Regions from separate parts of the Homo sapiens genome. Here region 2 is linked to region 1. Evidence: fine-mapped expression QTL. A gene starts in region 1. The other region holds a variant in brackets. All regions are shown on one strand. Distances are between the middles of the regions. Region 1 holds the start of PTGDR (prostaglandin D2 receptor). Region 2 has its middle 68 kb from the start of LINC02319.

Region 1 (8,324 bases):
TGTTCTTTCCACTGTATGATGCTGCTTTCTGCATTGGTCTGACTAAAACATTCAAACTCAGGTCAAAATTTCCATGCATTTGGCTACTGTCTACTTTGTCACAGCATAGATAAGTGAGGCCCCAACTTTACAATAGGAGCTCCTAAAGATTGTATAAAGGACCAGATAGTAACTATTTTAGGTTTTATGGCCAAGAGACAAAATCATAAATATTTGATAGGTACTAATATAACATGGGAGAAAACACATTTCCACAATTTTTTGATGGAATTCAAAATGTATTAATAATTGAGTACAATTTTTTTTTTAGATGGAGTCTTGCTCTGTCGCCCAGGCTGGAGTGCAGTGACACAGTCTTGGCTCACTGCAACCTCTGCCTCCCAGGTTCAAGCGATTCTCCTGCCTCAGCCTCCTGAGAAGCTGGGACTACAAGTGCATGCCACCACGCCCAGGTAATTTTTGTATTTTTAGAGACGGGGTTTCACCATGTTGGCCAGGATGGTCTCGATCTCTTGACCTCATGATCTGCCCGCCTCGGCCTCCCAAAGTGCTGTGATTACAGGCGTGAGTCACCGCTCCCGGCTGAGTACAATTTTTTTGTAATATGTATCTACTAAGGAGAAGAATAAAACGTTTTCTTGGAACAGTATTTTTCTTGAAATAGTATTTGGCTCAATTGAAGCTCAAAACTCTTGGGTCTCATCAAATTGATTGCAGAGATTCATTTGTAAGAATTATTCTTAACTCCAGGGAGATGTAAAACAGTGGCCAGGAAAGATTTGGCCTGTGAGCTGTGGTTTGCTAACTCCTGTTTTAGAGTGTGATTCTACAAATGTGAACCCTGAATCTGAGCTTGCATATCACCTGGGAACTTGTTAAGAATGAAAATTCTTTAAAAATGTCTGAATTAGAAACTCTGGGGAATGGGGTCCAGCCATCTTTTTTTCTAGAAGCCTTGCTGGTGATTCTGAGCTGGTGATTCTGAAGACCACTGCTATATGTCATCTGCGCCTATATCTACATTTAGATAGATATAGATTTATGTATTTGTTTATTTATTTTGGGGGCATACTGTTCCCACCCCTGCATGCTGATGCCCCAGACTTCTTTTTCCGCAAGCAGTAAGGCCTTCATTTAAAGGAAAATCGCTTTGTATTTCCCTTTCATTCACCATTGAAAGTAATATCCAAAATGGCTACATTCTGAGAAGAAATTTAACAACTTTCCTATTCACAGAAGTCTCAGGATTTCGAGAACGTGGGATTGGCAATGGAATTTCTGTAAGTATTGTTTTTGTTGAACAGGTACCTTGGGAGAAAGGAGAGGAGCAGCACTGAAAATGTTTCCTCAAGCCTCACCTACTCCCAGGTGTCTTGGCGGGGACTCCAGGAACAAATGCCTTCAAAATGAGGAGATAATTTCATTTCCATCGCTATCCTCATTACCAAATTGAAACCGGAGATAATGGCTTTCATGTCACCTCACTTGCCAAGATACACTCAAAACCCGTCAAGTCAGGTTGTCAAAACGACACCAGCAGCTAAAACATACAAAGAGCCTCGGCCTCCATCGCCACAATCCCTGGCGGATGCAGCACCAGAAACAGCAGCCGTGGCGTCTCAAAGTTTACGCACGCGTTTTTCAAAATTAAAACTATGCATCTGCAAATCACTCTGGCTGGCTTAAACCTCTTTTTCCCTTTCTATGCCAACACCGGGGAGAAGATCGTCCCAGACGCCATTCGCCCATTTCTGATACCACTGAAGTCATGAGCAGGTCTAACAAAATAAAACATCACCCAGCCGTCGGGAAGTAGAAGACTCCTGTTGCCAAGGAGAAACTAAGTTCTGCTCCTCCTAAGGCGCAAAAATGACCTCGAGATCTCCCCAGAAGGAAGCAGAGAGGAGGGAGTTCTGCCACATGGAGAGGGTTTTGCTGGGCTAGGGAGACACCGCCGGGCTCAGCCTTTCCCTTCCTTTCTCTAACTTTCCCTCATTTCGCTCCGCAAACTGAGTTATATCTCGGGGCTGTGGAAGGAATCCAATTTGGGGAACTCAGCAGCAAACCTTCCTGGCCCAGGGCGCAGCTCGCCTGGCGCCGCGTCCATCCCGATCCGCTCCACCCTTCCCGCCCCGCATCCGCGGCCGGACAGTCTCAGTGCCCTGCTGCCTCGGGGCCCGGGGACTCACAATTACGGGCAGAGAACACATAGTGAAGAGCACGGTCATCAGCGCCAGCAGCAGGAGGTGATCCAGCTCCTCCAGGGGCTGAGGGGACGCTTCCCTCCCGTCCGCGCGCGGCTCGGCACAGTCCCTGGTGCAGGAGCGCGGGTGCCGCTGCAGCCGCCGGTGCATCGCATAGAGGTTGCGCATGGCGCCGAGGTTGCACAGCACGGTGGCGAGGACCAGCAGCGCCATGAGGCTGGAGTAGAGCACAGAGTACCCCAGCACCGACAGCGAGCCCTCCTCGTGGACCATCTGGATAAAGCACCAGGTGCCGGGGCAGTACTGCACGAACTTCCCGAAGCCCATGAAAGGTAGCGCGCAGAAAGCCAGGGAGAAGGCGCTCACCACCGGGGCCACCAGTGCGCCCAGGCGCAGGGTGATGTGCCGTCGGTAGAAGAAAGGGTGCCCTAGGGAGAGCCAGCACTCCAGTGCCATGGCCAGGAGTTGCAGTGTCGAGGAGAGCCCAAAGAAGGACATGAAGAAGGCGAAGGCTTGGCACAACGAGTTGTCCAATGCGGGCGCAAGCACCCGCAGACTCCGGTTCTGAGCGTAGGCAGCCAGCACCACCGGGCTTAGGAGGCACTTGCCCAGCAAGTCGGTGACCGTCAGGCCACACACCAGCATGTAGAAGACCGAGGGCAGCGGGCGCAGTGGACGCCGCGAGCACCACCCCAGCCCCGAGCGCGCCAGCAGCCCCAGGGCCAGCAGGTTGCCCAGGAGGCCGGTGCTGAAGAGCACCCCGCCCATCACCGCCGAGTTGCCTTTTTCCACAGAGGTGGTGTTCTGGCAGCGGTAGAACGGCGACTTCATGGCGTGCGGGAGCAGAGGGCTGGAGTGAAGGCTGCGGAAGGGCGAGGGCCCCGGCGCCCGGGTGCTAAGGAGCCCCCGGCAGCTCCGCGCGCGGCTCGGGCGGAGAAGCTGCGCCACAGAAAAAGCTCCGAGGGCGGCGGGGTGTTCCCCACGGCAGGAACCTCCTATCTAAACTCGCGGGTCACACCCCTCTTTGAGAGGCGGGACGCTCTGCAGGGTGAGCGCCTGGCGCTGGCATTGAAGAGCGCGGAGCAGGCCAGTGAAGAGCTCGGCCCTGACGCGCTGCGTTCTCAGTAGAGACAGACTCTGGTGCCGAGTCGGAACGGCAGGAGGAAAATAGCCAGAATTCCAAGCACCCAACACCAGTCCTTCTAGCGAGGCAAGAGAAGAACTACTAAAGTGGAGGGGAAATTAAGCAGCAGCCACCTGAGAGGAGGGCAATGGTGCTGGTGTTTGAACTGGGGTGGCCAAGAACTCGAAAGATGAGCGAAGAGGGGAGGCTGAGAAAGGGCTTCTACCTAGTTGTCTTGAATTAGCTAGTCAAGGAAAGGTAAAGATAACTCACGTCTGGAAAGCCCCTGAGCCTTAGCTCCTCTTCTCTACTAGATCAGCGCAATTTGGGGCATTCACGGTCATCTCCATTGCATAGGCGAGGAAACTGAGGCCTTGGAAAGTTAAGTGATCTGCCCGTGGTGACAGAGCTACAGAAGTAGCAGAGCCGGACCTCTCACCCGATCTTCTATTTTGGAGTTCATCTGTCCTGTTCCCATGACTCCTCCTCCCAAGAAGTTGTCCAGATTTCAGGGAAGTGGTTTGTGGGAAAGCCAAGAGCCGGTGTTGGTCCTGGGTGCCATGAATCACATTGACTGTAGAGAGCTGGGGGGAAGGGCATGGTTAGCAGCACTGTTGCTGTCATCAGATAGGCCTGGGTTTGAGTCCAGGTTCTGCTCCTCACTGTGTGTGTGACCTTATGGGACTTGCTTAGCCTCTCAAGCAGTAACATCTATCTGGCCTGCTTGGCTCTTCTGAGGCATAGAAATAACACGTAAAGAGCAAGTACATAGAAAGTGCTCAATTCATGCAATCACCATGATTCTTATTTGATAGAAGGGTGTTTTGGTAGCTGATGTTTAACTGCAGTTTTTAGCATGGATTTTGAAATCAGAAAATGGTAGATTTGGCATAGAGCTTTCTCACTCCTCTGATTTGTGGCTACTAGAAAAAATTTATTCCTGTTTGGGCTTTGACTTGGCTGCATCATAAAGGCAAGGGAGTTAATTGTGATAAGCGTGATTTTATATCTTTAACTAGCATTCGATGCCCTGTGAGAGAAATTGGCTTTGAGTGTGGAATCTCAGTGGGATGACTAAGGTTTTGTTATGTAAGTGAGTAGATGATGCCTGGGCTTGAAACGGCTCATTTTTAGGCCTCATGCCAGTTCTGATGGACAGACTCAGGGAAAGAGCAAGACCCTTGGGATTTAGATGTGAAAGCCTGAAGGGTAGACAGAGAGGCTGCCTCCAGACTGAAAGTCTGGCCAGTAATTCAGGCCACAGGGTGGAAAAGAAGAATCTAAGCTTGGAATTAGATAGTTCTGAACTCCACCACTGGCTGTGTGACCCTGGGTTAGTTGTTCAACCTAATGGAATATGAGACTTATGCTGAACTTGTGGGGTTGTTGTGAGGTTGAGAAAACTTGAAGTGCTTTGGCATAGTGTAATAATAATAATAAGAGCTAATATTTATTGGTCCTGATGCAGGTTGGACACTCTCTAAGCCTTTCACTTATATTGACTCAATAGAAGGCCTTGTATAGAGTTAGTTCCCTTGTCTTCTACCTACTCTCTCTCATTCCCATCTCTAGCCCCTAGCACATAAGAATGGGTTTAGAAGAGCCCCACTCGACTTAATGAAGTGAAAGGAAGAGCAGGCCCCATAACCAAAAGACATGAGAATTTGATGAAAGCTGTGGTCTCCTCCATAGACAGACAGACACACACACACACACAGGCACACACACACAGACACACACGCAGACACACACACACACACTTTACATCAATCTCAGGCTGTTCACCATTTCCTGAAGCCCTTCTATGGTACCCAGAGGAGACCCAATGGACACTAGCTTAAGAATCCTTCCTCTAAAAATATTGCATGGGTTGTTCTTCTGAAGCATACCTACTTCAATTCTTTGCAGCTTTATTTTCATGCTACAGTGGCTTACAACTCCGTATTTATCCTAGGAACCCTAAGATTACAAATACCTTTTAAAGAAAACAACCCCAAAGTGTGACTGTTGGGCCAGCTGTGGGTCCTTGATAAGGTTTACATACATCATGCTTTAAGGTTGAAGGTTTTGAACAAGTGCAATTCAGGAAACCACACGTTTCCTCTCAGCCACTGTAGCTGGCCTTTACGATGGGGTTTCCGGTTGCCTTTCCTGATTGCTTTGCTGGTGTCCACCCTACCCTGTTCTCAGGCCTAACTTTGGAGTCTTCTGTCCCAGTTCCCGAGAAATTCTATTTTGTAATTTCACCATACAACCAAGAAAAGTATCATTTGTTCATGCGTCAAATAGTTTTTGCGCTCCTACTCTGTGCCAAGCATGGGGGTGAGGGGATGAAGCATGTGGGCACTGAGGGGCATACAACAGATAAGGAAAGGCAAACATCATGTCGTGTGACCTCTACAGGCTTATACATTTTTATATCAGCTTTCAGAGTAACCAGGCTAAGTACATTTTTTCCTTAAAAGGGAAACCTTTAATGAAAATATCTTAGGCTAAGTTAGTGGTAAAATTACCTCCATTATCTACAGAGCTGTACCAGGCTGCTTAATTGGGTTATAGGACAAATCTTCTGAAAATATATGACATCATGTGGATGACTATTTTAAATATATAATTATATTATGGCAATATAAACATAAAAATCATAGATTCTCATGGACAAGGCTCAGAAGCTGACATAGGCAAATGAAAACATTCACTTAGACTTGAGAAGGGATGGCAGAAAAATATCTCCTTGGTTTCTGATATTTTCAATGTTGTATATGTAATAATTATTTTAAAAGACTTTAAATGTAAAACAAGTGATATGGTTTGGTTCTGTCCCCACCCAAGTCTCATCTTGAATGTAGCTCCTATAATTCCCATGTGGTCATGGGAGGGAACTGATGAAATGTAATTAATCATGGGGGCAGGTCTTTCCCATGCTGTTCTGTGATAGTGAATAAGTCTCACAACATCTGATGGTTTTATAAAGGAGAGTTCCCCTACACAAGTTCTCTCTTGCCTGCTGCCATGTAAGACGTGACTGCTCCTCATCCACCTTCTGCCATTATTGTGAGGCCTCCCCAGCCATGTGGAACTGTGAGTCAGTTGGACCTCTTTCCTTTATAAATTACCCAGTCTCAGGTATGTCTTTATTAGCAGCATGAGAACAGACTAATACAAGAAATGTATGCTTATGGTGGGGATCTAGGAAGGGGAAAAGAAGGAAAAAGGAACATTTATTTTTTTCTGGATCCATTCTAACTATGCTTCTAAATCTTATCCATTGCTCACTTCTACTGAACTCCAAGTGATATTTTGGGCTGGGGCTTGTGAAGAGCAAGGAATGGAGAGGAGGGATGCTAACAAATGATAAACAAACTTAGCTCTCAAATTTGGAGCATGTTCTGCATGCTAGAGACCATGCTAGATGTTCGTTCACATTCAGGACCTGGAGTGGTAGCATAGAAGTGTGGCCATGATGTGTTAGGTCCTGGGAGTCATACTGTGTGAACTTAAATCTCAGCTTTGCCCCTTGCTAGCTGTGTACCCTTGCATAATCTTCTAACCTTTCTAAACCTCAATCCGCTTGTCTGTAGAAAGGAGGGAAGGAGGGTGAAGGGGGATAATTGGACTGAACTCTTAGGGTAGTATCTGGCTTAAATGAAATAATCTGCATAGAACAATAGTTAGCAATCTTGGCTGCACTTTGGAATCACCTGGAGAGCTTTAAACCTTTGTGATGCTTCAGCACCCCAAATTGATGATATCAGACTCTTTGGGGTTGCCCTCCAGGCTTCAGTATCTTTTTTGAAGCTCCCCAGTTAATTCCTGTGTGCAGCTCAGGTGAGAATGTTAAGCACTGTGCTGTGGCATGCTCTGCGTGGCTCCGTAAGTGATGTTCATTAATGTTTTTATTCCTGCCAACTGCACTGCAGAAGTTTTCTTTATCTCTCTTTTCTTGGATAAGGAAAATGAGACTCAGAGAGGTTAATAACTTGTTTAAGTTCACACAACTGGTATGTGATGAGTCTAGAATTGGCATCCAGGTCTTTTGGATTCCCCAAGCCTCTGCCTTGGAGAAAGAGAATTGCAGAGAAGACCAGAGAGTGAGAGAGAAAGGAGAGATCCTGCCACTTCCTCTATCTGCTCAGAAGTCAAGAGGCAGAACTACCACCAGGGACAGACCATGTGTCAGTGCCCTGTGTTTTTGGGGTCACACAATGTCTTGTGGTGGTCTGCCCAAATATTTTGGCATCTGTTTGCTATTTGCAGGTAGTTTAATAAAATCTTCATGTTTGTTTGATTCTTATTCCTGCTTTTCAGGCTTCCCCAACCTTTTGCCTAGCAAGAATTTCCATTTTGATCTTTGGCTTCTGTCCATGTGTAAATCAGGATCAGGATCTCTGTATGTGTAGGAATTTGAGAAAATACGCTTTCAAAAGATCAGCATGAATTTTTTGAAAACGTCTTTGGGTGATGACCTGAGAGTAAATAAATGGTGGTATAATCCATTTGTAACCTGATGACAGGTTGTGAGGGTTCACTGATTACTGAGCTTTTCTAGCAGCTTGCATAAGCTTCCAAGGGAAGTTGTTGGCAGCTATGGCTGGTTTGGTTGCCTGAGAAAAGCAGACTCTGAGATGGAGATGAGGATAGGATATGTAGCGTATTTATTAGGAAGTGCTTTTGAGATTGACACCTGTGAAAAAGAAGGAACAGAAACAGGATTGAGTAGAGAAATTGGGTTGTGATAGTTCCAATGACAGACCTTAACTAACCTGACTGGAAACTCAGAAGCTGACAAGGCCCCTCAAAGTTGTCTCACTTGAAGGTAAGGATACTAGGCTTTTGTATCCCTGAATGGGCCAGTGACTGGGGGCAGGTTGCCCTGGGGAAGGGCATAGAGCCTTGGGTGCTGCAGCTCTCTCAGCCAAGGCAATACATGGAGGGGGCTGATGGCTGAGGACTGTGCCACAGCGCGGGGAATAAGCCTTTCAGTCCTGAATGGGATC
Region 2 (8,341 bases), 73 kb after region 1:
TTCATCCCTCCCCATTACCCCCTTCTTAATACCTGGCAATCAGTGGTCCTTTTACTGTTTTGCCTTTTCCAGAATGTCATATAGTTGGACTCATACAGTATGTAGCCTTTTCAGATCGACTTCTTTCATTTAGCAATATGCATTTAAGCTTCCTACTTGTCTTTTTTGTACCTTGATAGCCCATTTCTTTTTATCATTAAATAATATTCCATTGTTTGGAGGTACCACAGTTTATCTTTTCACCTATTGAAGGGCATCTTGTTTGTTTCCAAGTTTTGCCAATTGTGAATAAAGATGCAATAAACATTGATGTGTAGGTTTTTCTGTGTACAAATGTTTTCAACTCCTTTGGGTAAATACCAAGGAGCACAATTACTGGCTAACAGTATAGGAGTATATTAGGCTGTTCTCATGCTGCTATAAAGAACTGCCTGAGACTGGGTAATTTATAAAGGAAAGAGGTTTAATTGACTCATAGTTCTGCATGGCTGGGGAGGCCTCAGAAAACTTAGAATCATGGCAGAAGGGGAAGCAAATACATCCTTCTTCACATGGTGGCAGGAAGGAGAAGTGCTAAGCAAAGGGGAAAAGCCCCTTATAAAACCATGGATCTCATGAGAACTCACTATCATGAGAACAGCATGGGGGTAGTCACCCCCATGATTCAGTTACCTCCTATTGGGTCCCTCCCATGACATGTAGGGGTTATGGGAAGTAAAATTCAAGATGAGTTTTGGTTGGGGACACAGACAAACCATATCATTCTACTCTGACCCCTCCCAAATCTCATGTCCTCACTTTTCAAAACACAATCATGCTTTTCCAAAATCCCCCAAAGTCTTAGCTCATTCCAGCATTAACCCAAAAGTCCAAGTCCAAAGTCTCATCTGAGACAAGGCAAGTCTCTTTCACCTAGGAGGAGCCTGTAAAATCGAAAGCAAGTTAGTTACTTCCTAGACAAAATGGGAGTATGGGAATTGGGTAAATATACCCATTCCAAATGGGAGAAATTGGTCAAAGCAAAGGAGCTACAGGCCCCTGCAAGTCCAAAACCCAATAGGGCAGTCATTAAACCTTCAAGTTCCAAAATGATCTCCTTTGACTCCATGACTCACATCCAGGTCACACTGAAGCAAGAGGTGGGCTCCTATGGCCTTGGATACCTCCACCCTGTGGCTTTGCAGGGTACAGCCCTCCTCCTGGCTGCTTTCATGGCTGGTGTTGAGTGTCTGTGGCTTTTCCAGGTACATAGTGCAAGCTGTCAGTTGATCTACCATTCTGGGGTCTGAAGGACAGTGGCCCTCTTCTCACAGCTCCACTATGCAGTGCCCCAGTGGGGACTCTGTGTGGGGGCGCCAAACCCATATTTCCCTTTGCCCTAGCAGAGGTTCTCCATGAGGGCTCCTCCCCTGCAGAAAACTTCTGCCTGGACATCCAGGTGTTTCCATACATTTTCTGAAATCTAGGCAGAGGTTCCCCAACCTCAGTTCTTGACTTCTGTGCACTCAGAGGCCCAGCACCACATGCAAGCAGCCAAGGCTTGAGCTTGCACCCTCTGAAGCAATGGCTTGAGCTGTACCTTGGCCCCTTTTAGCCACAGCTGGAACTAAAGCAGCTGGGATGCAGGGCACCATGTCCTGAGGCTGCACAGAGCATGGGGGCCCATGAAACCATTTTTCCCTCCTAGGGATCCACATCTGTGACGGGAGGGGCTGGGGTGAAGTTCTCTGACATGCCCCAGAGACATTTGCCCCATTGTCTTGGTGATTAACATTTGGCTCCTTGTTACTTATGCAAATTTCTACAGTGGGCTTGAATTTTTCCCCAGAAAATGGGCTTTTCTTTTTCATCACCTCATCAGGCTGCAAATTTTCAAACTTGTATGTTCTGCTTCCTCTTGAATGCTTTGCTGCTTAGAAATTTTTTCTACTATATACCCTAAATCATCTCTCTCAAGTTCAAAATTTCACAGATCTCTAGGACAGGGGCAAAATGCCGCCAGTCTCTTTCTTAAAGCAAAGCAAATGTAACCTTTGCTCCAGTTACCAAGAAGTTCCTCATCTCCATCTGCTACTACCTCAGGCTGGACTTAATTGTCAATATCGCTATCAGCATTTTGGTCAAAACCATTCAACAAGTCTCTAGGAAGGTCCAAACTTTCCCACATGTTCCTGTCTTCTGAGATCTCTAAGTCTCTAGGAAGTTCCAAACTTTCTCACATTTTCTTGTTGTCTTCTGAACCCTCCAAATTGTTTCAGTCTCTGCCTGTGACCCCATTCCAAAGTCACTTTGGAATTTTTTGGTTATCCTTTTAGCAGTGCCTCACTCCCTCGGTACCAATTTAGTGTATTACTAAATTGCCTAAGAACTGCCTAAGACTAGGTAAGTTATAAAGGAAAGAGGTTTAATTGACTCCAAGTTCCACAGGGCTAGGAAGCCTCAGGAGACTTAGAATCATGGTGAAAGGAGAGGCAAAATGTTCTTCTTCACATGGTAGCAGGAAGGAGAAGTGTTGTGCAAAGGGGAAAAGCTGCTTATAAAACCATCAGATCTCATGAGAACTCGCTCACTATCATGAGAAAAACATGGGGGTAACCACCACCATGATTCAGTTACCTCTCACTGGGTCCCTCTCACAACATGTGGGGATTATGGAAACTACAATTCAAGATGAGATTTGGGTGGGGACACAGCCAAACCATATCAAAGAGTATGTTTAGTTTGGTAAGAAACTTCCAAACATTCTTCCAAAGTTGCTATACAATTTGGCATTCCCATTAGTAATGAGTAAAAGTTCCTGCTTTTGAGCCAGGTGCAGTGGCTCATACCTGTCTTCAGCCACACTCAGGATATGTACAGTATGTTTGTTACAAAATATATTTTTTATAAAAGCTTAAGGGAAATGAGGAGAATTCATCATTTATTTCTTGTGCTCTATTTGTTTGGTGGTCTTCCAAATAGATAACCACTTTTTAGGAATCTGGAAGAGGAAGTTCTTGATTCAATGGGAGTCCTAATTAAATAACTCTCCATTGTCTTCTGATTCAAAGATGCTATAATGATTTAGACTTGATGAATAATTGTACTAGTTAATCCTACTTCCTCCCATCCTATTCCACAACATCTTCATCTGTAAACACTTGTCTTGTATATTAATACTCTTACCACTGCCAGGTTGGCTTTGAACCAAATTCAGCTGCTCTATCTTCTTTGCATCAACTCTCCTGAGGTCATGAAGCAGAGTAGCCTTCATGGGACCCTCTGGACTCCCAGCTCAGTGGGATCAATCTCAGGGCAACCTCGTAAAACCTCCGTTCCCAGTAACTTGAGCTTCATTAGTCTGTCAGTCAGGCAAAACTATGCTTTACTATGGGGCAATGACAATTAGGAGTTCAGCCTTCACTAAATACAAATTTGGAGCAAAAACATACTGATGTCAGTGATGAGAAAGAAGATTTACTAACAGTTCCCAAATGCGCAAGGCAAATTATGAAATCTGCCGTAGTCCCAAATTTCAGAGGTCTTCCAGTTCCTTTGTAGTTGGTGGCCCTGTGGAGAGATAGCCAATGCTGTTCATTTACCACTGGAGTCAAAGAAAAATAAAACCATTACTCTCAGGAAAAGGCCTCACCATATCTAAACTAATTTTAGAAGGAATGCATACTATTTTTTCCTTCAAAGACATTTATGGCATTTACTATATATAAATGTCAATATAGATAGCAATCTAGGTTTGAAATATAGCCACACATTGCTTGATGATGTTTCTGTTAACAAGGAACCATATGTATGGTGGTCATCCTGTAAGAAAATAATACCATATTTTTACTGTACCTTCTTTATGTTTATATATACAAATACTTACCATTGTGTTACCATTGGCTACAGTATTCAGTATGGCCACATGCTGTACAGTTTGTAGCCTAATAATAACAATCAGATTGAGAGAGAAAAGAAATTTTTATCTGAGGAATATGAGCCCCTTTTAAATTATCAGGCCCAGAGAGACATTAAAATGTGACAGCAGTCTCATCTCACTCACCCTTTGAGCTAAATAATTACCTCTTGAAGACTTCGCTATGTGGGTGCTAGACTATCTGATGCCATGTAGCCATGAAATGCCACATGTCAGAAGCTGAAACTCATACTCTGTAGTTCAACAATGTGTAGCAAGTTACTAATCGATGTTATTTCTGTAAACCAGTGAGAATTCCTATTCAAACAGTTTTCTATCAGCTCACTCCTTGTGCCCTTTTGCCTTTTAAAAACCAGCTTGTAAGGAGGGCTGAAATGAGCACTTCCCAGAGTTTCTGGGGCTGC[A/C]GTCCTCAACCTTGGCCCAAATAAACTCTCAATATTAATTTTGCCTCAGTTTCCTTTTTTTGTCATCAGGCTATATTGTATAACCTAGGGTGTAGCAAGATATACCATCCAGACTTGTGTAAGTATACCCTATGATGTTTGCACAATGAAGAAAATTGCTAATGATGCATTTCTTAGAATGTATCCATGTTGTTAAGTTATGCATGACTGTAGTTGTATCTTTTTTCCCTTAATTTGGAAAAAAATACCTTCTAAATTTTGAAACCCTTACCTAAAATCCCTTTATAGGCTCAAAATTCCCTTAATATTTACAATGAAGTGAATTATTTTCCCCTTTCTTTTGGAAAACAAATGAGATTAGCAACTTTTAACCATTTACTTTTTTTAAATTTGCTAACCACATGCAGATCTATGTGCACCTTTCCCAGAAAACAAATTATACATATTGTAACAAGAAGAGAAAACCAAATGCTTGTGAAGTCCTTATGAGATAGGTTGCTTTTTCCTGATGTAGTTTTAGAGAACGCCTGCCCATTGAAGCCAGCCTCAAGTGAGTTAGCTGATGGAGTGCAAATGTCATCTCTCTGACAAAACTTTCTCCAACCCACGTAAGCCATTCCCCAATCATAACTATTTGCTTGGTCTGTGTCCTGGTGCTTTATTTTTTATCTCTATTTTTAATCACAGTATTTAATGATATTTTTCCTTCACCAAAAATAAATGTGAGTTATGTAATATGTTGGGGTGCCCAGCACACTAGTGCAAACCCTAGTGTTTTTCAAAAGAACAAATGAATGGAGTGATATTTTGTCACCTTTGAAACTTTTTCTTATGGAAACGTTCAAACTTACACAAAAAATAGAGAAAGCAGTATAACAACCCCCCATATTATGCAACAACTGACTTTACACTTCTCACACCCCACTAGATTATTTTAAGTAAAACCCGGATATATCATTTCTTTCATTAAGACGCCAGTATATGTCTCAGTGGAGGCAAGGATCTCTTTTGTTTAATATAACCACAATGTGATTTTCCTAAAACTAAATATATGAAAACATATTCTTAATTTCCTCAATATCTATTAGACTTAATATCATCATTCAAATTTCCAAATTGTCTCATTAATGTCTTTTTATAATTGGTTGGTTTGAATCAGGATCCAAACAAGGTTCACACAGTGCATTTTGTTGTTAGAGTTCCTAAAATTTCTTTTAATCTGTAACAGTGCCCCCTGCAAGTCGTTTGTCCTGTAAACTCATCCGAATTCTGGATTTGTGATTTAGGTTCATAGATGGTGCCATGTAGTGCCTGTTGCATGGCAGTAGGAAGAACATAATGCATTGTCTTTGTCTTTGAGATGTTAAGATTGATCCGTAGATCTGAGAGTTGTTAGGCTAATTTATTCATCATAGTGTTCCAAACCAACCTTTCACCTACTAAGTGGTAATATTCATTATTTCATTAGGTATTATAAATGGGTAATGTTTTAATTAGGAGTTATTAATGGGTAATATTTTAATCATTTTTAATTAATTCTTTCTGCATGTATTACTGGAATTTAGTCATAAAGGAAAGACAGAATAAACGCTTGCTTCTATCCTTTTATTTATCACTTCATATTAATGAGTTAGTGTTCTAACAATTTCCGAAGGTGACCATCAAATTTTTTTTTTTTTGAGTTGGAGTCTCGCTCTGTCACCCAGGCTGGAGTGCAGTGGTGTGATCTCAGCTCACTGCAACCTCTGCCTCCCTGGTTCAAGCGATTCTCTTGCCTCAGCCTCCCAAGTAGCTGGGATTACAGGCGTGCACCACCATGCGCAACTACTATCAATTTTAATGTATCTATGTGTGTATATATATGTGTGTGTGTATGTGTGTATATATATGTATACACACAAACATATACATACATATATATAGATAGATCATCATAGACTTATGGATTCCAACATGATGCTTTTCAAATCTACCTCAAATTATTTTTGATGCTCAAATTGGGCCATTTTTAATCAGTAGGACACTTTTCAATTTGTCTTCAATATTCTTTGATTGTTTTCTTTCTTTCCAACGTGATAAGATGTTCCAGCTTCTTGTGCCTTTCTACCTCAGACTCAGAATCTGACGTTTACCCAAAGAGTTCTGACTCCTTTTAGTGAGGAATGATATTGACAGTGCTAATTGTTCTTATTTCAATGGGTTGATTGTTGCCTCTAGGCCTTTTCAGTGGACAGAGATGGGATAAAAATTATGACTTCATTTTCCTTTTGTTTCTTTTTTTTTTTTTGAGACGGAGTCCTGCTCTGCCACCCAGGCTGGAGTGCAGCGGCACGATCTCGGCTCACTGCAACCTCCGCCTCCTGGGTTCAAGCAATTCTCCTGCCTCAGCCTCCCAAGTAGCTGAGACTATAGGCATGTGCCACCACGCCCAGCTGATTTTTGTATTTTTAGTAGAGACAAGGTTTCACCATATTGGCCAGGCTGGTCTCGAACTCCTGACCTTGTGATCTGCTCCCCCCTCCTCCCAAAGTGCTGGGATTACAGGTGTGAGCCACCGCTCCCAGCCCATTTTGCATTTTTAAATGGAAAAAAAGAACATGATTTGGCCAGTGTCTTGGTCTTAGATGCTGCTGGATGAAATTAATGGTTAAGATAAAGTGTTTGCTTTATACTTGATTACGCTAAACAAAAAAGATAAAGTGCTCACTAAAGTACAGGAATATCTGAGATATTATGGGTTCAGTTCTAGACCACCACAATAAAGCAAATATTGCAATAAAATGAGTCACATGAAATTTCTGCTTTCTTAGTGCATGTAAAAGTTATGTTGACACTATACTGTAGTCCATTAAGTGTGCAATAGTATTATATCTTAAACCAATGGACATACCTTAATTTAAAATATTTTATTGCTAAAAAACACTAACAATCACCTGAGCCTTCAGTGAGTCATAATCTTCTTGCTGGTGGAGGGTTTTGCCTCCATGTTGATGGCTGCTGACTAATCAGGGTGCAACTCTCCCTTTCACGTGAATACTCAGAGGCCGTTGTTGGGTTATTAATTGGCCTAACTGCAATATTCTTGTGTCTCAGGGACTAGGGAGGCTGGAGGAGAGAGAGAGAGATAGAATGGTTAGTCAGTGGGGAAGTCAGATCACACACATTTATCGATTAAGTTCAGGTGCAGTTAATGAGCCCCAACACATCTACAATAGTAAATCAAAGATAACTGATCATAGATCACCATAACAGAGATAATAAAAATGAAAAAGTTTGAAATGTTGTGAGAATTACCAATAAGTGACACAGACTTACAAAGTGAGCACATGCTGTTGGAAAAAATGGCCCTGATAGACTTGCTTGGTGCATAATTGCCACGAACCTTCAATTTGTAAAAAATCCAGTATCTGTGAAACACAATAAAACAAAGTATGCCTGTATACATTCAGTCATTTGGAAAGAAATCAGAGACCAGGAGATATCACAGAATAAGTGGAGTGAGATCTTATAAAATATAGATTAATTAGTGGTACTAAATAAGCCATTGCTAAAATAAGAAGTAGGAAACTAGAAAATCTAAACAGACAGCACAGTGTCCAGCATATGATATTAACTCACTAAATTATTAGAGTTTATGTTTTATAGAAACTCATATTAATTAACAATGAGGCATATTCTCCAATAAATATTATCTTTGTAAGCTGCTTGCATTTCTTCCCTTTTTCCTGGATAACAAGATCTAGGTTGGAACTCTTTAACATCTTGACCCTGCTAGAGTTTTCAAGTGGAAAGTGAAGCCTTATTTTGCACAAATGTTTGGTATGTGAGCATGCACAGTGTGAGGTGCAAAGCCTTCTTAATACTCAAAGAAATAACAACTTTAGGTAGTTGCAACCAAAATGCTAAACACATGTAATAAAAATACGCATGTGCACGTCTTATCTTCGACAGTCTGCATTATATCTCATGCTTTCCCTTAATGTGTGTGACTACTTTTCATTTTAAAGTATCTTTTTTACTT

What was found. PIP is the estimated chance that this variant, and not a neighbour inherited with it, causes the effect.
Region 2: its variant is fine-mapped to the expression of PTGDR in whole blood (TOPMed, PIP above 0.99).

Annotation. Positions count from the first base shown.
Region 1 is chr14:52,262,526-52,270,849 of GRCh38, reverse strand. PTGDR (prostaglandin D2 receptor) reads right to left here and starts at 3,152. Exons shown (of 2, transcript NM_000953.3): 1 at 2,190-3,152. The coding sequence starts at 3,035.
Region 2 is chr14:52,189,555-52,197,895 of GRCh38, reverse strand. No RefSeq gene overlaps it. Among named protein-coding and RNA genes, the nearest start is that of LINC02319, 68 kb to the right of the region's middle. The variant A/C (reference allele first, on the strand shown) is at 4,321.